Regions from separate parts of the Homo sapiens genome. Here regions 2, 3, 4 and 5 are each reported to be linked to region 1. Evidence: microRNA targets listed by miRTarBase, many of them from high-throughput screens and not tested one by one. Region 1 holds a microRNA gene; each other region holds the end of a gene's coding sequence. Distances are between the middles of the regions.
The links. The annotated mature microRNA hsa-miR-7151-3p reads CUACAGGCUGGAAUGGGCUCA and lies in region 1 at 1,532-1,552, shown strand. An mRNA with a match to its seed (bases 2 to 7 or 8) in the 3' UTR can be bound and repressed. Matches are read on the target gene's strand: a 7mer-m8 pairs with bases 2 to 8, a 7mer-A1 pairs with bases 2 to 7 and ends in A, and an 8mer does both.

Region 1 (3,000 bases):
TGTCCCCCAATCTCTTCTGGCTTGCATGGTTTCTGCTGAGAGGTCCACTGTTAGTCCAATGGGCTTCCCTTTGTAGGTGGCCTCGCCTTTCTTTCCAGTGGCCTTTGACATTTTTTATTTCATTTTGACCTTGGAGGATCTGATGATTACATGTTTTGGGGACGATCTTCTTGTGGAGTAAGTATCTTACTGGGGTTCTCTGCATTTTCTGAATTTGAATGTTGGCTTCTGTAGGTAGGTCAGGGAAGTTCTCCTGGATGATATCCTGAATTATGTTATCCAAAATGGTCCCATTCTCCTCATCTTTTTCAGGTACCCCAATCAGTCATAGATTCAGTCTCTTTACATAATCCCATATTTCTTGGAGGTTTTGTTTATTCCTTTTCATTGTTTTTCTCTATTTTTGTCTGCCTGTGTTATTTCAGAATGACATTCTTCAAGCTCTGAGATTCTTTCTTCTGCTTGGCCTATTCTGCTATTAATACTTGTGATTGCATCGTGAAGTTCTTGTTGTGTTTTTTTCAGCTCTATCAGGTTGGTTATATTCCTCTCTATACTGGCTATTTTGGCTGTCAGCTCCTGCATTGTTTTATCATGATTCTTAGCTTCCTTGCATTGAGTTGCAAAGTGCTCCTTTAGCTCAGTGAAGTTCATTTTTTAGATCCACATTTGGAATCCTATTTCTATCATCTCAGCCATCTCAGCCTCAGTCCAGTTCTAAATCCCTGCTGGAGAGGTGTTGTGGTCATTTAGAGGAAAGGGAGCACACTGGATTTTTGAGTTTTCTGTGTTTTTGTGCTGATTCTTTCTCATCTTTGTTGGCTTATCTACCTTTGATCTTTGAGGTTGTTGACCTTTGGATGGGTTTTTGTTGTTGTTGTTCTTGTTGTTTTGCTCGTTTTTTCTTTGAACAGTCTGACCACTTTTCTGTAGGGCTGCTATGATTTGCTGGGCGGCTGCTTCAGACCCTAGTCACCTCAGTTTTTTCAGTACCTGTAGGTATTACCGGTGAAGGCTGCAAAACAGCAAAGATGGCAGCCTGCCCCTTCCTCTCAGAGCTCTGTCCCAGAGAAGTACTGACCTGTTGCCAGCCTGAATGCACCCATAGGATGTGGCTGGAAACCCTGTTTTGGAGGTCTCACCTAGTCAGGAGGAATGGGATCAGGGACCTCCTTAAAGAAGCAGCCTTCCTGCGTTTTTGTAGAGCAGCTGTGCTGTGTTTGGCTTCCCTTCACCCCCATATAGTTTTGCACTTTCCAAGGCCCACAGGTTGGACTGGGTGAGATGCCCAAACAGCACAGGTGGCAGCCCACCTGGCCCCCTGGGCACTCCATCACAGGGAGAAATTAGAACTTTGTCAGCCATAGAACATGGGTGAGGGTGGTTGGAAGCACTGGTTGGGAGGACCTGCCCAGCAAGGAGGAATGGATTGGGGTTCTATTTAAAGAAGCAGTCTGGCCACACCTTGACAAAACAGCCATGCGTTGCTGGGGATCCATCTCTGCCTGTATTGGCTTGGATTCTGCAAAGCCTACAGGCTGGAATGGGCTCAAAGCAACATTGGCAGCTCATCCCTCCCCACTGGGCACTCCAGCCAAGGGAGAGATCAGAGTTCTTTCCTAGAATATGGGCAGGGGTGGCTGGAGGTCCCTATTGGGAAGTCCTGCCCAGTGGGGTGGAATGGATTGGGGTCCCACTTAAAGAAGTAGTCTGGCCACATTTTCATAGAGCAGCTGTGCTGTGCTGTGCTGGGGGTCCCTTACTTGTCCAGACTGTTTGGACTCTCCAAAGCCCACAGACTTGAACAGCTGAGTTGTCCAAATAACAAAGGTGACAGCCCACCCCTTTCCCTGGCAGCTCCATTCCATCTCAGGCAGGCACTACCCTGTTGCTGGTGGCTGGCTGAAGTTCCAAGCCAGTGGGTCTTATTTTGTGAGGTGCCTTGGAAATGGGGCCCACAGATGGACGCTGTTCAGCTCCCTGGATTCGGCCCCCTTCCTAGGGGTATGTATGGACCTCCCGCCTTGACTGAGTTGTAGTCACCTTTGCCAGGGATCCTGTGGCTGGGGTATGTAAATCTCCTGGGTCTCTGTGCATACCTGAGTGGCTGCCCTGCTGAGACTCCACACAGCTCTGTGTATCTGACCCAAGGTCCTGGTGGAGTGGGTTTATGAGGGGATCTCCTGATCTGAGGGTTGCAAAGATCCATGGGAGAAATGTGGTTTCCCAGGGTGGCACATTCACTTACCACTTCCTTGGCTGGGGTGGGGGTTCCCTTGGCTTTGCGTCACTTCCAGGTGGGCTATCATCCTGCCCTACTTTTCTCTGTTTTCTGTGGATTGGTTATTTCCCTGATCAGTCCCAGTGCGAAAACCTGGATATTTCAGTTGAAGGTGCTGTATTTACTCACTGCTTTTCTTCCTCTTTATGAGTGCCATGCACCATAGCTACTTCTAATTGGAGGTCTCGGCCCACTCTCTGCTCTTCATCTTTCTCAATTCTCTTTTCTGTATTTTTGTCTGACTGTGTTAATTGAAAGAATTGCTCTTTGAGCTCTCAGATTCTTTCCTCAGCTTGGTCTATTCTGCTGTTAATACTTCCAATTATATTATGTAATTTTTGTAGTGAATTTTTCAGCTCAAGAAATTAAGTTTTTGTCTCTCTTTAAGTGAGAATTTCACCTTTCAGCCCTTGAATCATTTTACTGGATTGCTTGGCTTCCTTGGATTGAGTTTCAACTTTCTTCTTGATCTCAATGAGCTTCTTTGCCATCCATATTTTGAATTCTATGTCTGTCATTTCAGATAATTCAGACTGGTTAGGAAACATTTCTGGGGAGCTAGTGGGCTCATTTGGAGGTAAGGGGGCAGTGTGGCTTTTTGAATTGCCAGAGTTCTTATGCTGATTCTTTCTCATCTGGGAGGGATGGTATTCTTTTAATTGTGGTGTAAATTGAGTGTACTTTGTTGGCTTTGTTTCTGAAAGTTTTTAGAGAACTAA
Region 2 (5,126 bases), not on the chromosome of region 1:
AGTAACTCACAAATCTAACTAACTAAAACCTTGACATTCGATTGGGCAAATAAATTGTGTGTATCTATATGGATGCATGTGTATATAACTATAACTATATATGCAGTTTTAAAAGTTTCAATTAGTCCTGTTTAACCTTAAGTTACTACCTTCTCTTCTGCTGTAAGAAAAATAAGTTTTGAATAGTATAAAATAATGTTTTTAAAAGTTGGTAATTATTTAGTTGTTCTCTTTTTAGATAACTGGATTCACTTTACAATTTGCAAAACGGCTGCAGGTCAACCTATTGGTCAAGCCATCAGAAAAAATTCAGTGAGTCTCTTGAAAATGGTTATTTTGATATGATCTGTAGTATCGTAGTATCTTCTTGTAAGAACATGAGTAAATCTATGTAAGTAAGTGGAAATAACATCTGATATCAACTTATCTTTAGCTTAATGTCACCAATCATTATTAAATGCTTATGACTAATTTCACAGATTTTGGAATGGTTTTATGGTTTTATTTGAGCATTTGATAGCATCTCTTATTTTGTTAGCTGCCCAAATATTTCTATGACAATAATTAATTTTTGGAATTCATATTTCAGTTCCCCGAGAATTTATTGAAAGGAAAAATCCACACTTGTGAAAAAAAATCAATGTGATTAGAAGACATATAAGAGCAAAGGAAGTCAAAAACAACTATATTAAAATTTAAATGAGTCATTACAGGAACAAAATCAAATTAGCAACAGCAACTAATTTATGAACATTTATTTTAAAGTTTGTTATATATAAATATTAGTTTATATGTTCATAATTATTTTCAACGTATATTACAGAGTATTAAAGAATCTGAAGAGGAACTATATTGTGCCTATTCTTTGGCTTAATGAGGTTTGTATTTGCAGCTGTTAGTCATTAAAAACAACCTTCTTTGTATATAAACAAGCTCTTGATGTTTCAAAAGAATGTATAGTATTTAAAGCTATATGTATTTCCATTACCCATATGGATGAGTATACATTTATTTAACCTATTTGAGATGATCCAATTGAACAAAAACATTTCCTATCATTTAAGATTTTCTTCAAAAATGCATCTATTAAACACATTTTCTTGTTGTAACATTTGTCTTCTATTGCCTGACAAGGTATTTTTACTATAAATCCATGCATTGATAGCTATAAAAATAGGAAAAACATTGAATAAGTCTTTGGAGCAAATGAAACTGTTGACCCTTTGATAGTTCTGAAGAGCAAATGAATCCTAGTACATTGAAGAGTACCGTACTCTATCTGGCACTTAATTGCCTTTCTTGACTTGCAAAAGGAATTCCATTAACTTGCCTTATAGATACTGATGACTAACACCAATAGAGGTGTTAGAAAAAAGGGTGATAGGCAATTGAAGGGTTTATTTTGTTTTACTAACGTACCCAAATAATGTTGATTATTAACTTGATTACAGACTGGGACCATTGGTGATGAGAAGGCAAACATGTTCAGAAGTCAAGTAACTGGAAAAATAAACCTCCTTGGCCTGATAGAAATGATCTTACTCAGTGTTGGTGTGGTGATGTTTGTTGCTTTTATGATTTCATATTGTGCATGCAGATCGAAAACAATAAAATAAGTAAGTATGTACCAAAAAATATTGCTTCAATAATATTAGCTTATATATTACTTGTTTTCACTTTATCAAAGAGAAGTTACATATTAGGCCATATATATTTCTAGACATGTCTAGCCACTGATCATTTTTAAATATAGGTAAATAAACCTATAAATATTATCACGCAGATCACTAAAGTATATCTTTAATTCTGGGAGAAATGAGATAAAAGATGTACTTGTGACCATTGTAACAATAGCACAAATAAAGCACTTGTGCCAAAGTTGTCCAAAATTGACTGGTTCATTTCTCAATTATATAGCTAGTTATATATTATCTGATACTTAAAAATAATTGACTAGGAAATGGTTTCATAAGACCAGGATTGCTGCATGTAGACATGCTGGCCGTGCATTTTCCAAATCCAGAAAAGTCCTGAACAAAAATTTGAATATAATAGTATCAGGAAATAGGGGAAAATAGTGTTCAACATAGTAGAACCAAGTACTCAGAGTGGTGTACAAGAGTTTAGGCCTCTATGCTTTAGATATTAGTGTCCATGCACTCTTAAAGATGAATGAATGCCTGACCTTTCCTAAAGGAAAACCTTTTTTTAGTTATCACAGGTAACATTGGTGTTGCCTGTGGGGGAGAATTTTTTACTTTCTCCCTATTTTTCTTCAGCCCACCTCAAGGCAATGTAAATAAAAGCAGTATGTGTGTTATAATAACTTATTTAGTTGTTTACTGTGTGCCAGTACCATGCTAAAGAAAGATTCTTTATCTCACATGATCCCTAATACAATTTCATGATTTTCCAATAGCCTGGATTCATCAGCATCCATTCTATCTTCTAGAGATGTTCCATGAAATCATACATTTTAATTGTTTGTGACCAAAGCATAAATCAGTGAAAGTGGAATTTGGGGACCAATAATTTCCTTTTGTGAGATGGAGAGCTTGTGTTTGAAAAGGCAACCTAATTTTTGGTTCTAATCACTTCTACCACTATTTAGTCACCAAAAAGACAATAATTCTGCATCCAAACTATTTGGACAGAATGGCTTCAAAATGCTAGCCTAAAATGTTCACATTATAAAAAGTTAAATATTACCTTCAATACCTGTCAGTAGCCTACTGACAAATTATGACTAAACAAAGGTATTTGTATGACTATGTAATAGATCATCCGCTGAAAAGTAAAACAAAATAACAAAAAAACTTGTCCTAATGGGAAAGCATGCTTAATAAAAGGAAATGCAGAAGTTATAAACATGTTTTGTAAGTAAGTATTCAGAATTAAAATTATGTGATACATTTTTATGATTGCTTAATGATCCTTGGATGTCAGATTCCTTGGGTCTATTTATAGCTAAATTATAATGAAAAATTCAAGGCTTGCTGGAGCAACTTTGTCAACAAATATATTAGTTTTGCTTATATATTTGATTTTTATGTGGAAAAATTACTACCCTTTTTTACAAGCAGAGAATAAACTGTTGATTACTTGATTTACTAGATTTAGAAGAATCACAAAAGATATGTAGATTTTCTTAAGCAAAATTCAGCTCTTAATATCATAAAAATTATATCTTTGGGCAGATTTGTAAACAATAGGAACAAGTAAGAAGACAGGTATGTAAGAAGTAGCAAAGTGTAAGACGGTGGAGCTTTAATGTGTGGTTTTACTCAGGGGGTCACAAGAAAATAACCCAATGGTCCTTTTGAAAGTAGTACATACACCTTTAAATGGAACTTGGTCTGAAGGGTGTGGAAATGCTGGTCCAGGGCAGATGCACTTCAGCTACCGTTCCTTGCCTGGTGTGTGCTTGTCTTGAAGCACCCTTCTTATGTGCCTTTCTGGAATGGGAATGTGTTTTGCCCTATTGGTGAAGTCCGTTAGAGAACTTCTCTCTGCAGCTAGAGAAACTGAACTGATTAATAAAAAGTATGATATCTAAGATATACTGCCACTCTACAGGTAGTAAATGATTCTTCACATTTGTGCGCCAGCTACATCATGACCCTTGGTAATACCGACCAACAGGATGAAAATTGGATATGCTTTACTTTTACAAAGCACACCTTATCTTTTAGTTGAAGAAATGGTGGCACTATTTCTTTTTTTGCACTAAGCAACTGCACATTTCAAAAGGATTATTGAGATGTTATGAAAATCTCTACCTTGCACAAAAAAAAACCCAGCAGCTTTTAAAATTCATCATTTCCACAACTGAATTGATTTCCGTTTCTACAGACCTGGCTCAAGCACAAACCAATTTGTGTTGTTCTGATTCAATAATTGGTTTCTGGGTGGCCAATTCAGAAGAAGAGTGTACATGCTCAACAAATCCTAGGCCCTGCATTCCTGTCATCCTCATCCGGGGGAAACACCATCATCCCAGTAGCTGCCCTATTCAACTGCAACAGTCTCCAGGACCATCAGTATACTGCATTTCATGTGCACCAAATATTTTGAAAGACATTTATAAATAATTGGCTTATGACTCATATTTCTCTATGAATACCTTCATACAGCAGGTATAACTCTTTTCTTTATGGGCTTAAATATTTTGTCACTGATCCTGCAAATGGACATCATTTTAGCACACTAGCGGTTTATATTTTAAGGACCTTCATTCTCTGTTCTGCACCTCTTCTGGAAATTGAGTAAATTTTGCTTTTTTTTTTTTACTCAGTTGCAACTTACGCTTGGCATCTTCAGAATGCTTTTCTAGCATTAAGAGATGTAAATGATAAAGGAATTATTGTATGAAATATTACAAAGCGTAGACTATGCATTGTTATTCATTATAATATTTTTTGCTGTCATAATCGCCTCATAAAGACAGGTTTCAACCATTAAAATATGTTCTTCCTTAAATTCCTGTGCTTTTTCTAGTTCCTCTTGTGTCATAAAATGTTTATCCTAATTTTCTCTCTGAAGTATATTTTATCTGAATCCACATTTCTTTATAAATCCATAGTCCTTGCTGAAATATGCTTTCTAAATTTCTACCACTTTGTTCTAGGCTAATTTTTTAAGCTAATTGGATGAAGAACAAAAAGACATTTGGTTTCATCCTTTACAGCAGTAGGACAATTGCAAAGGTTTTTCCTTTTTCATAAGGAGACACATTAATAGGTAACTCTGTTTCTTGAGCAGGGGTTCACTTATTCTGAGAGCATTAGTTCTCCTAAAAAGCTCCAGCATAGAAAGGGAAGATAAACCAAATTCTAGCTTGTGTTTTACCCACAGAAGGATACAGGACAAAGGAATAGTAACTGGCCTGTTTGGATACTAAAATCGAAAATAACTTTTAGCCTCCTCCTTATGATAGCCGCCAGAGTAAATGTTGAGCATTACTACAGAAAAGCCACAAACCAAGAATCTACCTGTTTGGAAAGATCTTTTGCATCTCTGAAGGTGCTTAAAGCATACTTAGTGCCTTTCCTTTTAACTGGGAAGATAAAAGAAGTATCTGTCCAAGATATTAATATGTAAGATAACATTGTAGACATGTTCTTCTG
Region 3 (5,126 bases), not on the chromosome of region 1:
GTGGCGTGATCTCGGCTCACTGCAAGCTCCGCCTTCTGGGTTCACGCCATTCTCCTGCCTCAGCCTCCTGAGTAGCTGGGACTAAAGGCGCCTGCCACTATGCCCAGCTAATTTTTTTGTATTTTTTAGTAGAGACGGGGTTTCACTGTGTTGGCCAGGATGGTCTCGATCTCCTGACCTTGTGATCTGCCTGCCTCGGCCTCCCAAAGTGCTGGGATTACAGGCGTGAGCCACTGCGCCCAGCCTCGGGGTACTGATGCTTTAATCCCCTTTATTATCAATTCCTTAAGGTCCTGCATATTTTCTCGGTGGGCTGCGTTGTTATTGTCCCACTGGGGGTCTTGGGTGGGAGTTTTTTGATCTGCTGTAGGAACGTTTTGGCCAGGAGGGTGTTCGTGTTCCTAGGCTCCCATAGCAGCTCTATGGATCATGTCTCTTTCTTCCCCCGAGAAGAGGGGAAAGGGAAATTCTGAATATCTTTTTTACATTGCTCTATCTCACGTTGAAGTCCTTTAAGGGAAAGGTACTTAGGTCGGTAGTGAGTGGGCTCTTGGGACGATTCTCAAGAGGCAGGGTTGTAAGAAAGGGGACATCAGAGATAGGAGAAGGGTCTGGGACAGCAGCTGCTTTTGTTTTTGGTCCTTTCATTATCCTTCTAACATTTTAACATTAGGCCTGGGGGAATATTACTGTTGCTAGCTTTCTCCTTTTTATCTCTTACCTTACTTGGGGCATTTCCCATCTTGGGTCCTGGTTAAGCTCAATCTCCCCTGTTGGAGATGTCTCGCCTATCCTTTAGCCCCACCTGCTGGAGGCTCCTTGCATTCATGCACACTTTCAACCCCCAGAATATCCTGACCACCAAGGAAATACTTTGTCACCCCTGCGATGTTTCTTAGCTTGGTCTCTGCACACTTACTTGGTCGCTGTGGTACATGAGGATCCTTTCCCCCAGGTCGCCAGCCCGTTTCTTTCTGCCTTGCTGAGAGTATAGGTTTATTCGTCACACTGGTTGGTCTCGATTCCTTACCCCTGTGGCCACCGCAACAAGGCAGTGGGACGTGCCTCCTCATGGGAGAGGTCTAGACCCTCCTCAGAGGAGGATGGGAATCCCAAATGAGACCCCAAATTTGTTAGAAATAAATTTTCAGTGCCACAAAAGAAATAGCACTCAAACATACATTTTCTCAGCAAGGCAATTTTACTTCTATACAAGAGTGCGTCTCATGGATGGTGCAATGGCGAGAGCACACCGGAACAAGGGAGGGGAATGGGTTCTTATCCCTGATGCAGGTACCCCCTACTGCTGTGTTGTTCCCCTATGGGCTAGGGTTGGACCGCACAATCTAAGCTAATTCTGACTGGCTATTTTAAAGAGAGCAGGGGTATAAGCCAGAGTGGTGGGGTGAGAAGTTTAGACAGGAAAGATGGTTACGGACCAGGTGACTAAAGGTGACTCAGGTCAGAGCAGGTGACAGAGGCTAGGAGGGGATTGTTTACTGAAACTAGGGGCAAGGAGACATAAAGAATGAGGAAATTAAAAGTTAAAATGAAGAACAAAGAACAGGTGAGCTGAACATACTGATACATTGGTTCTTTGGAGAGGATCTCAGAACTCAATGTACTTAACAAATTACAGGCTAAAACCTTTGAAGAAGAATTTATGATATCCTACATTATCATGGGGTAAACAATTCGTCCCTGACAGAATAAGGCTACTGGAGTTCTCTTCTTGTAACTCTGGGAAGGACTAGAGGGAACTGTGTCTGCAGTGGGGCCAGGTAGTTAAAAAGTCTGGACTGGGCCGAGCGTGGTGGCTCATGCCTGTAATCCCAACACTTTAGGAGGCCAAGACAGGTGGATCACCTGAGGTCAGGAGTTCGAGACCAGCCTGGCCAATGTGGTGAAACCCTGTCTCTACTAAAAATACAAAAATTAGCTGGGCGTGGTGGCAGGCGCTTGTAATCCCAGCTACTTGGGAGGTTGAGGGAAGAGAATTGTTTAGACCCGGGAGGCAGAAGTTGCAGTGAGCCGACATCGTGCCATTGCACTCCAGCCTGGGTGACAAGAGCGAAATCCATTGCAAAAAAAAAAAAAAAGAAAAAGAAAAAGTCTGGACCAAGCCAAGAGGGGAAGAGGACGTCCCCATGAAAGAGCTTTGGATCCAGAAAGCCCGGGTTCTTGGAATTCTTTTTCTCTTTTCACTTTTGTTGTAGCATACTTTGTTCTTTTTTATTTTTTATTTTTTTGAGATGGGGTGTGGGGGCTTTACTGTGGGTCTTGCTTTGTCACCTAGGCTGGAGTACAGTGGCTCGGTCTCTGCTCACTGCAACCTCCACCTCCCAGGTTCAAGCAATTCTCCTGCCTCAGCTTCCCAAGTAGCTGGGATGACAGGCATGCTCCACCATGCCCAGCTAATTTTTTTTACCGTTAGTAGAGACAAGGTTTTGCTATGTTGGCCAGGCTGGTCTCGAATTCCTGAGCTCAGGTGATCGGCCCACTTTGGCCTCCCAAAGTGCTGGGATTACAGGTGTAAGCAACTGTACCCAGCGCATGTTTTATTTTAATTTAATTTAATTAACTTATTTTTTGAGATGGAGTTTCCCTCTTGTTACCTAGGCTGGAGTGCAATGGCGCAATCTCGGCTCACTGCAACCTCTGCCTCCCGGGTTTAAGTGATTCTCCTGCCTCAGCCTCTCCAGTAGCTGGGATTATAGACATGTGCTACCACGCCTGGCTAGTTTTGTATTTTTAGTAGAGATAGGGTTTCTCCATGTTGGTCAGGCTGGTCTCAAACTCCTGACCTCAGGTGATCCACCTGCCTGGGCCTCCCAGAGTGCTGGGATTGTCCTTGGAATTCTGAGTGGATACATGAAGAGTTAGTAAGAACCAGTGAAAAAGCAATCACTTATGATCCTGGGCTTTGAAAAATCACTGTGATTATCTTATGCACTTACAAATGAGACTAAGACGCCTGATGGGAAAGTGCAGATTGCTGGTGAGGAAGGGCAATGAAGAAGAGACTAGGAACCAAATTCATCATCATTATCACACAAAGGCATTTGGAAATGTCACCTTACACATGGTGAGCACATATGGGTGCCAGCCCGAGACAGCAGGATAAGTTTCACAAAACTTGACCAGGCAGGTTAGAAGCAAGGCATGGTTCAGGATGGCAGAGGGCAGGGAGACAGAAGGGAGTAGGATGGGAGAGAAGAGCCAGCTGGAAGATGAGTCAGGGGGTGCAACTGGGGAGAGCAGCTCTGAATCCTGCTTCTCAGTGAGAAAGTTGCTAAGATGGCTTTGCAGGGAGCTGTCCTATCGCTGCTCGAGATCAGCCTGCTGGGCCTATGATGATAAGCAGGGCTGACCCTCTTGGGCTCTGTAGCTAAGCCCAAACCCTGCTGAAAATGGGGCGGGGAGGTTGAGGCAGTGTGTGGCAAGTGACACAGACGGGGACTCCCAGCTGGGGGTCCCTGGAATTACTTGACATCCCACAGCTGGTGTCTTCAGCAGTCATCTGGGGCAACAATCCCACCTGCCCATTGTGGTTGTTGAGGATATCAGAGCTTTTGTTTTAAAGCGCTTGCCACAAACTCTTAAGATGCGGATGGGTTTCCCCTGTGAAGCACTCCACAGGCGGGATGCAGGCCCATCTGAGGAGGGGCTTGGAAGGAAGAGGAGCACTTGAGACGGGGCAGAACTGGGCTGGCCTGGGGCTCAGCGACAGCTCCATTGCAGACAAACTGGGCTGGGGAAGGCAGCTCCCACCTGGCAGAGGATGCCCTTCTGCCCCCTGACAGGAGGGAGGAGACCACCGCATCCCCGACTTTCAGCCCTCACGTGCCATCTGGTGGCTTTGCTGCAGACACTGCCATGATCTGAGTGGTCTTTGGCAATCACGCATTGGCGGGAGTGTGAGGTTGCGGGGAAAGAGGGACTGACCATGGGCCTAGGTGGGGAGGCCTGGCCACTGTGCCCACAGCTTAGGAAGGGACAGTCAGAGCTCCTCTTTGTTGCTATCGACGGACTGAGCCAGAGGCCCTGGAGCCAGGGGGGAACCTAGTGGCTCTTGGTCGCCAAGCTGCTGGCTGCTGTCCTCCAGGCGCCTGCCTGTGGGGGCATAGTCCCGCAGGAGCCTGCTCTCCACTCTGTGCTGCCAAAGGCTCTCGGTACTCACGAGTCCCTGCATCCTCAGGTACCCCTGCTGGCAAAAGGGTGGCAACTTCTGGCGCGTGAGGGCGAACAGGAAGCAGGACTCTACACAAAAGCAAAATGAGGAGAATGAGCCAGGCTGGGACATGTGGGGAGGGGTGCAGAAAGGGGAGCTGCCAATGCCAGGTGTGGGGGCTTCACTGCAGGCCTTGCCTGGTATCTTCCATCCCTTGAAACTGGGAGCTGACCTTTCTGGGCATCTCACGTCCAACCTGAGTAGGTCATGAATCATGACCCTCCACGAGGCTCCAGGGCAGGGGGCTGCCTTGACACTCTGGAAGAACAAGGCTCCAAAATAAAAGCAAACCACAGCAATGCCTCAGCTCCCAGACATCAGGGCTGAGCACCGGGCTCTGCAGGCAACCACACTGGGGGCGGGGCTCCGACCTTCATGAGCAGACCCTCGGCCTGGTGCGGCTGGGAACTCAGTGGTCAGTTCCACTGTGAGCTCAGATCTGCCTGCAAAGACGCAGTCCCTCAACAACATTTGAGTTGCAAATACCATGTGCAAAGTTCTGATCTAAACAGTGTGGGGGATAAAGAAAAACGGGTATATCCTCATCTGTCCCACAACAGAAAGCTGGTGCATGAATCAAATTTGGTCAATCATAAGATAGCTGTGGATACTTATCATGTAGAAATATGAAGAAACGGCCGGGCGTGGTGGCTCACGCCTTAATCCGACAACTCTGGGAGGCCGAGGCCGGTGGATCGCCTGAGGTTAGGACTTCGAGACCAGCCTGGCCAACATAATGAGAAAGAAACCCCGTCTCTAGTAAAAATACAAAAATTAGCCAGGCGTAGTGACAAACACCTGTAATCCCAGCTACTCGGGAGGCTGAGGCAGGAGAATCACTCGAATCCAGGAGGCGGACGTTGCAGTGAGCCAAGATCGTGCCACTGCACTCCAG
Region 4 (5,072 bases), 33 Mb from region 1:
CTTGAAAGAACCAAGGAGGTGGTATTGCCTCGGCTTGCCATGCACCCCTCATTCCTAATCTCGAGGTGATAGAATTTGGATGTAGTGACAGGATGAGCGTTGCTATGACAACCCACTGATGCTAGGTGCTCCATAAGAGGGCATTTTTGACAGGTCCTCGCAAAGTCTGCCATTTGTGTGGGGACCAAATCTCCTATATTTGTGCACTAGACATACCTAGGGACATAGCACCCTTTATGCCTTCAAAATGCCGCATGCATATTTGTGGGCGTCCCTCTTAAAGAAATAGCAAAGCCTTACTTTGTAATTTGGGAAATAAGAACCAGGTTTGTACTGGAAGTGGACTCGAATCTGGACCTTTCTCTGGGCTCACAGGACTCAAGGCCAGGACTCAATCAAAACATCTGGCTTGCTAGGATGATTCCAAGGGTCCAAAGGGCAGTCATGGGACTATCATGTCGCTTTCTGCATAATTTTTCATTCATTTAGTTCGAGCTGTACTGGCTCCTTCAATTCAGAACTCCTCAGGCTTCTTCAGGCAGCCTGGGCCTTGCAGTGGACTCATGAAGGTTCTTGTCTCTCCCCTTCCCCTCTCTCCTCAGGTGCTCAAATACGCAATCAACCACCAGTTCCTGTGTTTGCAAACTTCCCACTTTGAGACTTCCAACTGTAAGACTGTATATTGTCTTAATGGACTAAGAGTGAGAATGATGTCATAATGGGGACCATCTTTTCCAAGGGACAGGTGAGTCCCCCCTCTCCATCCTCATCCAAGAGTGGGCCCCAGGGTTCTCCTGCCCCCTTTCCTGCAAACTTTCCTCAGATGTGAGGAAACTTCCAACTTTCTCTAAATATAAAAAAAAAAAAAAAATCACATCTGTTAATAGACCTTTTAAAAAAGCCCAGCTAGGCAAGGCTGCCCAGGAACACCAGAGACACCAAAAGAACAGGAAGAAATATGCCTTTTATTAGGAGTTGCATATGTACAGAGAAAGCTGTTTCTCACAGCTCAGGGGAGGCTGTGAGAAAGAGCCACTGTCATCCAAGGTCACTGCGCGTACACTGGTAACACCACTTAGACACCGCCGCACGTGATTAAGAAACAGAACCATGACACAGAAATGCAGAAGAGACACGGGTACGTGTGTGGACACATCATTTCTAAAAACAAGTCAACACAAAAATACAATGTGCCAATAAAAAAAAAATAGACATATCCATACATGTCTTTTTTTCTGTTTTTAAAGTAAATACATGGTATGCTGAGCTTTCACCTCCAGCTTTTTCCACATCGGGATTCACAGGCACTTTAGCACCCCAGCCATGGTTTACAATACAGGATGTTCAGAACAATGAAGGAAGATGGGAGCCACCGAGATCCCCGAGACCCACACACACACTCTAATACTGACGCGAGAGTGAGCTTCCTGCCACCACCGCTGTGGGACCCGAAAATGTTCTCTGTGTGATGTGTAACGGCTTTTCCTTTGTCTTTTATGTTTCATGGCAGAACTACTTAGGAGCGCGGCATCGCCAGTCAGACATGCAGTGTGTGGATGCATTAGACAAGCATCAATTGCCTCTGACTTGAAAAACCGTAGAGAGCAGATCAAAATGACTGTCTGGTTTATCTCTGTCCCATTCTGTGCCCTTCCTGACAAGCTGTCAGAACAAAAACTAATTAAAATAATTACTAGGATGTACTGGGCCATGAGCTCTTCCTAGGAGAATTTCTTTCTTAGCTCTCCCCTCATGATAGACACAGGGCCAATGGCAGGCCCAGCTTCCCCCGGCAGGAGCCACTCCTGTCTCCCACGTTCCCCACACAGAGCTGTGGTGACTCAACCCACGTGTCAGGAACAGGACCGAACAAGCGTATGTATAAACGCAGACCAGGATCATCACTTTATTGGTAATGTTGAGTCATAAGGCAGTTACAAAAGGACCCCCATGGTGACCAAACAATGTTGGACTATGGCTTAGCTTCTGTAATAGGATGACCGACTCTCCCGTCACAAAGAGCTGAGAAAGGAAAGAGAAAACCACAGTGATGACAAAGTACGACAAATGGCTGTGCTGTGAAGTACCAGAAAGCCCCAATTTTTGGTGTATGTCGCCCACTTTTCCTCCACCAGAGACTAAGATGTCATCCCATAGCTAAGAGAACTTAGAGGGAGAAACAGGGCCGCACGTCATCCTCCACTTCAGGTGAATTTGTCACTGCAAGTGGTGCAGGGATGTTACAACCAAGCCGCGGACAACTCATGAGTAGGGCCGAGATTCCTGGTACTGTGGAGAGGCGCAGAGCATATGAACACCTCAAACAGATGATTGTCACAGGGTGGGAAATCCTTCCATGAAACAGACACTTGAGACATAGTGGCAAAGACATTAAGGCCTTCCATTTCTTTGCCTACACCGCTTAAAGGCACTGATACCAACAACAGAAATACTCCATAGTACCATCGAGGTTTTAAAAAAACTCCCAAAATACAAGTCTTCATAGGAAAATGTCTTTTATTGCGCGACATGAAGCATCCGTTATTTGCGTGCTCAGGAATAGAAGGGCCTCCCTTTCTCAGGAGTCTGAAGTCTGTTCAGCCTCGCAACCTGAGAAGGGGAGGGGGGCACATCTTGCCGGAAGGGCCCCTTGGGAGGGGCGTAACTGGGGTCCTGGACTTTCTTATACGAGTCATAGTTGCTGGGCCCCTCGGAAGGAGGCTGCTTCTTCATCTGCTGCTCCTTCCGCCTCTGTTCCTGGCGAAGGAGCTCCTGAGTTTCCAGCATGACCCTGGCGTTGAAGCCATGTCCTCCCAGGTAGCCGTTCCTGGAGCCTTGGTAGCTGGAGTACCTGGGGTTCTCTTTGGCACTCTGGAAGCCTTCCCCAGGGGAGTAGTTCTGCTCCCAAGAGTCCTGGGAGACCGAGCTGGCATTTTTCCTGCTTTGCCTAGAAAGCAAAACCCAAAGGTTAGTGTGAGGGTAGGAAGAAGGAGGGAGAGGGAGGAAAGGGGGCAGGATGGGATGGAATATGCATTTTCACTTTTCAACAAATATTCCTGTTCTCTCATCACATGCCAGACACTGCGATAGGGGCTGGAGAATTCAAAAATGACTGTCCTCAGCAAGCGCATAGTCTTAGACAACTAAACTAACAACGAGTAAACAGGAGAGAGAACTAGACTGTGCAGCTATTTAGAAACAGGGTCATCCTCCTGTGTCTGAGAAGGTTGTGTCTGTTCTGCTTAGGGTACCAATATCTCCTGCAATTTAGACACACTGGCAAAGTATAGAAGTATTAGAGGTTTGGCAGCTTCCATGGTAGGAATAATTGCTCGCTTTAGAACATTACAATTCAATTCTAAACAAGCACAACAAATATTTTACACAGCTGCCACCATAATGCCAGAAGCGCTAGCTAATATGAAGTACATGTAATGGATTACAGTATGAGTTCGGTTATGAAAGATTTAAGTCTAGACTCCTTTATGATAAAAAATGCAACAGGCAGTCCCTTAAAGCTCTGGCTTTCAAGTTGTGTATGTCAGCAACTTACACTCTCCGGGATACCTGCTCATCCAGATTGGACGGAGAGTCCGGAAGTCTGTAAAGTAAGCACTATTTTCTTATACATTTACCTTCACCAAAGGCCAGGGTGACCTACTTAACTTGCTTTCTGTCACCCCAGGATAGGCAAGTAAATCAGAGTCACATGGAAATTTCAAATTCTTCCCACTTCTGCAACAGAGTTGGGCATGATTTCCAGGAAACATTATTGTTTTGAAACATCTTTAATTTACTATCAAGTCTCTAGATGGTTTTATGAATTTACAATAAGATTGGCTATGATGAAATAAAACAATTCTGTGCCAGAAAGGAAGACATGCCCTAATTTTTTTGCCTTGAAAATGGAAGAGGGGGAGAGACAATTGAGTAATAAAACAAAGTATATTGCTCCATTTATCAATAAGAAAATCATTTGGCGACAGTATGTATTGCTCAACCCTCTCCATCAACACACACAACACAGCTGAATGTTCACAAAGATTTTCACGGAAGGAAAAGAAGGTCTGGGAAGCCACTGCATCTCCCGCAGGAATGATGCAATTTGCATTTTTGAACATTCACAATTGCATCAATATGGTTTGGAGTGAAATGCACCCATTTTCCATATGGCCTAAAATGTAGTTGGGAACATTTTCAGTAAAGAAAATGACCATAATGTCCAGCATCACCTCTGGCTATGACGATGACTGGATGAGCATTCCATAGCATGTCTGTCTCTTTTAACGGAAGACTGCACCATTTGTACAGTCAGCCCAGGCAAGAATCCTTAGATGTGATGGAATAGTTTATTTGCCTAAAGCACTGATTATCTTCACTTAAGTCATAAATTAATCTACCCAGAGACAAGACTGTTGGAAAATGCCGGCATGAAACCAGGGATTTGACATTAATCATGAAACTTTAATTAAAACAAGGAACTTGTGACTGATATTACAGCAACAAAAATGGGATTCTTTTATGAGTTATCAGTTTGAAGATAATCAGAAATAGGCTGCAGACATTTCACCTCTTTTTCATCTCTGGCCTACTAAGATCCACCAACCCCCTTCCTCCCCAGCTTCATGGAGCCCCAGGCTTCGCTCTACGGCAGCTGTGCACCCTAAGTGGATTCTGCATCATCCCCGGAAGACACAGTCTTTCTACATTTAAACAGGGAGAATTCACTAAAGGTTTGTTAGGGATGGAAATTACAACAATGTGGGAGAACCAATTTTTTGTAGCTAAAATTTTCTTCAAATTAATCAGTATAGAGAGAAGGAAGCAGACTGCCCTGAGGTCTGAAGTAAGATATGTGGGTAAAATGCACATAAGACAGAAACACACACACACACACACACACACACATAGACACACACACACATGCGCACACACACAATTCCTTGGTAAGGAAGTTAGCAGTATCTATATGCTCTTGATTAAGGAGAGAATGAGAAATGGGCCAATTGTAGAGACCAAGGGAAGGAAACAGACAATAAGAGTTTCCTACACTAGGAAACTAAGCATCCAGC
Region 5 (3,492 bases), not on the chromosome of region 1:
TTTTGGGATCACTGGCGTGAGCCACCATGTCCAGCCTATCCTGTTCTTTATAGGTATTTATTATAGCAGTATCCCTAGCCTCTACCCACTAGATGCCAGTAGCACCCCTTCACCCACAGTTGTCTCAACCAAAAATGTCTCTAGACATTGCCAAATGTCCTAGGGGTGGGGAGGAGAGAGGCAGGATTGTCCCCGTTGAGAAGTACTGGTCTAAAGGCATTCAAACTCAGAAAAAAAACAGTCTGCTGACCAAACACAAAGCATCTGAGGGTATGTATTAGGCTTGTTTGCCCCCTGTTTAGGCTAGGTCTTGATGTTTTGTGGGCCTTTGGATGTTAGGGTAGGCCTACTAATCTTGAAGCTGAGAAATGTCCCTAGAGCACCAACTTCTACCAGAAGAATCCCAACGCGACTGGTGTTTAGTACCATTACCATCTCTGAATTTTCTACTGCAATCACATGAGAAATAGAGGATGAGTTGATACGAATATATAGTAGAAGGAAAGGAAGGCATGCATACAGGGGCTGAAACAAAGAAGGGGAACTTTGAGAAAAACAGCTTCTTCATTCCACCCCTCCCTGCACTTGGCTTCCTGCCTCCAGGCTTAAGCCATATATAACAAGGCAGTTATAAGGCAGTGTTCCCAAGCCAAACCACTAACACTGTGTTTTCAGAAGCTGAGCTGTCTCTCTTGCTGCACAACGTGGTCCTGCTCTCCACCAACTACCTTGGGACAAGGCGCTGAATGAACCATGGAGCGGATGGCATTGTCCTGCAGTCGTATAGTATAGCAGTGCAGGAACAAACAGCACTTGCCAGCAAAGTCTGTGTGTACTGTTAAGTGTGTGGGAGGCAGAGAGAGGAGCAGGGGCCATGGGCTTCACAGCATGGCACACATGTGGGAACTGCAGACATTCCTCTCACAGCTAGAACTGAAACAAACCCTCTTGCTAGGGGTGGTCCGTGTGAGGTGTCATCCTGTCCCCCTCATAATTACTAATAGCTGGAACTGGCAGCAGCCTCTACTGGGCTTTTACTGTGATGTGTTCAGTTCATGTCCTAGGAAGTCAGCTTTTGCCCCAGGTGGGAATCCTTATTTGGCTTAGGACTGATCCACTTCCATGTTACTTACATCTGTGGGTTTTTGTTGTTGCTGTTAGAAAATTTGTGGCTGGTGAAAACAGCACTCCTTTGGCTGGAGCACATGTGTCCGTGCATGTACTTGGGTGTTTCCCTCCATCCTTTCTGATATGACCAAAAATCAAGTTGTTTTGTTTTTTGTCACCTTCACTGGCATGGGCTAACCACTTCTTTTTCAAACCCTCTGAACACCTTTTTCTGATGGGTAACTTGCAGGAATATTCTATTGGAAAAGATAACAGGAAGTACAAGTGCTTCTTGACCCCTTCCTCAATGTTTCTAGCCTTCACTCTCCATTGTCTTTTCTGGGCTGTATTACAGCCCTCTGTGGATCTTCAACTCTGCTGCCTCCACTGTGATGCAGCAGTCCAACTGTAACTGACAGTGGCTGCCTTCTCTGGGCCATGGATCACACCTGTAAGGTACTAATTACTGCCCAGCCTGGGGAGATCAGGAGAGGTCTGCATAGTTAGTAAGTTGGGTTTAGCTTTTGTGTGTGCATCAGTGACTTAGAGTTCTGTAATAACTTATTGTAAATGCATGAAGCACTGTTTTTAAACCCAAGTAAAGACTGCTTGAAACCTGTTGATGGAAATGACTTATGCATACTCTAATCATTTTGCTGTCTCCTTTTACAAGACTGACATAATCTAACAAATGGGGATTTAATTGGTTGGCATAGAACCTTCTGATGGGATGGAAGTTTTGCAGAAACTGATTTGAAGTTGATCTCCTTGCTGGACACTTTAAGGTGATAACAAGGAAAAGAGAATTTCATAAAGTTAATGGAATGAGGCCGGGCGCGGCGGCTCACGCCTGTAATCCCAGCACTTTGGGAGGCTGAGGCGAGCGGATCACAAGGTCAGGAGATCAAGACCATCCTGGCTAACACGGTGAAACCCCGTCTCAACTAAAATAGCAAAAAATTAGCCAGGCGTGGTGGTGGGCGCCTGTAGTCCCAGCTACTCAGGAGGCTGAGGCAGGAGAATGGCGTGAACCCGGGAGGCGGAGCTTGCAGTGAGCCGAGATTACGACACTGCACTCCAGTCTGGGCGACAGAATGAGATTCTGTCTCAAAAAAAAAAAAAAAAAAAAAGTTAATGGAATGAGAAAATGGGAGCCCAGAGTAGGGACAGGGCTAAGCTCCAACAGAGCAGGAGCAAGGCCTGCTTCAGCTGAACAGGTACACAAGGGCATATGAACCAAGTCCAGCTCTTGGTACTCCAAAGAGAATATTCTATTTTTCCATCACAAAATGTTTCTATTGTTAACATTAATTCCTAACTGACCTAATTAGTTTTATAACGAAGCTAGAGAAGCATCCTTTTTCTAACAAGTAACTGAACTGTGGCCTGCCGAGACAAAGAGTAACACATCATTCTTTTGAATATTTCTTTAATATTACATTTAAATATTCTCTTTAAATACAGCATTATCACAATGTAAAGAACCTAAAGGGGAAAAAATTATTTTCAGAGAACCAGACAAGCTTTGGATTCACATTGAAAATACTACCTGTGTACAGTATGTGAGAAAGGAAATTGGAAAATAATAAGGGTTGTGGTAATAAGAGTCATTTATCTAGGCCTAGACTGGGACTGAAGCTATCTGCTTCTATGATCAGAGGCCTAGCTTTCCTAGCAACCATGAGCTAGAATTCTGTCCAACTCAGGTAGCACCAGAAGTGAGATGGACTAGGTTGTAGAGAAGGCCTTTCGCTTGACAAGACAGTTAATGCTAAATGTTAATATTTAGCACTTAAAAGTTTGGGATCAGTGTGAGTCACAACTGTAGCGTTAATGAAGGGGATGGACTTAAATTAAGAAACTACAGGTTTTCAGAAACATATCTTGTGGGTTGGCAATGAGCTTAATAATTACAGATTCATATTCCTGGTTTGATCCCAAAAGCTAATGTGTTCCTCATCGTGCAGCTGGAATCTACTTCCTAGATTAAGCCGGAGCCTTCCTGCAGAGACAGTGGGCAAACCTCACCCTCCCCTTCCGACACAAACTTTGAAAAAGATTCTTTTCTCCATAAAGCCAAATTCCCAATTAAGCTTCAGTCCTGTGTTTGAGGGTACCAGTCTAAGGTAGGGGAGTCTAGTTCAGTTCTGGGTAGCTTCGAGAGCTCAGGTACTTAAAAGACTCTCAACTGTGTTTTGTGAGGCTAGGGGATGGGGAGAGATAAGGATCTGTGTACTTAAGTTCCCCTCCAAACTAAAACCAAGCAAAAACTGGAACAAATAGGAAAGGCAGAATGAACTAAAAAATGTTATGTGTATTAAATACAAATCTTTTCAGGCTCAGAGTTTAGAGACTTCAGGGGTGAAATGCTGCTGCGACATACGT

Region 2: the mRNA of CD36 is a reported target of hsa-miR-7151-3p. The part of its 3' UTR that is shown has no 7-base or 8-base seed match.
Region 3: the mRNA of FOXRED2 is a reported target of hsa-miR-7151-3p. Seed matches in the 3' UTR shown: 7mer-A1 at 2,525-2,531 and 8mer at 1,634-1,641.
Region 4: the mRNA of PARD3 is a reported target of hsa-miR-7151-3p. The part of its 3' UTR that is shown has no 7-base or 8-base seed match.
Region 5: miRTarBase lists LETMD1 as a target of hsa-miR-7151-3p. Seed matches in the 3' UTR shown: 7mer-A1 at 1,556-1,562.

Annotation. Positions count from the first base shown.
Region 1 is chr10:67,401,903-67,404,902 of GRCh38, reverse strand. MIR7151 (microRNA 7151) reads left to right here and starts at 1,493; the gene lies at 1,493-1,552. The region is part of intron 5 of CTNNA3 (catenin alpha 3); the gene reads left to right.
Region 2 is chr7:80,672,532-80,677,657 of GRCh38, forward strand. It overlaps CD36 (CD36 molecule (CD36 blood group)), which reads left to right. Exons shown (of 15, transcript NM_001001548.3): 12 at 239-312; 13 at 824-878; 14 at 1,452-1,616; 15 at 3,853-5,126. The coding sequence ends at 1,616. Among named protein-coding and RNA genes, the nearest start is that of CD36, 36 kb to the left of the region's middle.
Region 3 is chr22:36,486,008-36,491,133 of GRCh38, forward strand. It overlaps FOXRED2 (FAD dependent oxidoreductase domain containing 2), which reads right to left. Exons shown (of 9, transcript NM_001102371.2): 9 at 1,183-4,260. The coding sequence ends at 4,001. Among named protein-coding and RNA genes, the nearest start is that of TXN2, 6.9 kb to the left of the region's middle.
Region 4 is chr10:34,108,616-34,113,687 of GRCh38, forward strand. PARD3 (par-3 family cell polarity regulator) reads right to left here. Exons shown (of 25, transcript NM_001184785.2): 25 at 946-2,947. The coding sequence ends at 2,554. Among named protein-coding and RNA genes, the nearest start is that of LINC02629, 210 kb to the left of the region's middle.
Region 5 is chr12:51,058,686-51,062,177 of GRCh38, forward strand. LETMD1 (LETM1 domain containing 1) reads left to right here. Exons shown (of 9, transcript NM_015416.5): 9 at 676-1,739. The coding sequence ends at 746. CSRNP2 (cysteine and serine rich nuclear protein 2) reads right to left here. Exons shown (of 5, transcript NM_030809.3): 5 at 2,520-3,492. Among named protein-coding and RNA genes, the nearest start is that of LETMD1, 12 kb to the left of the region's middle.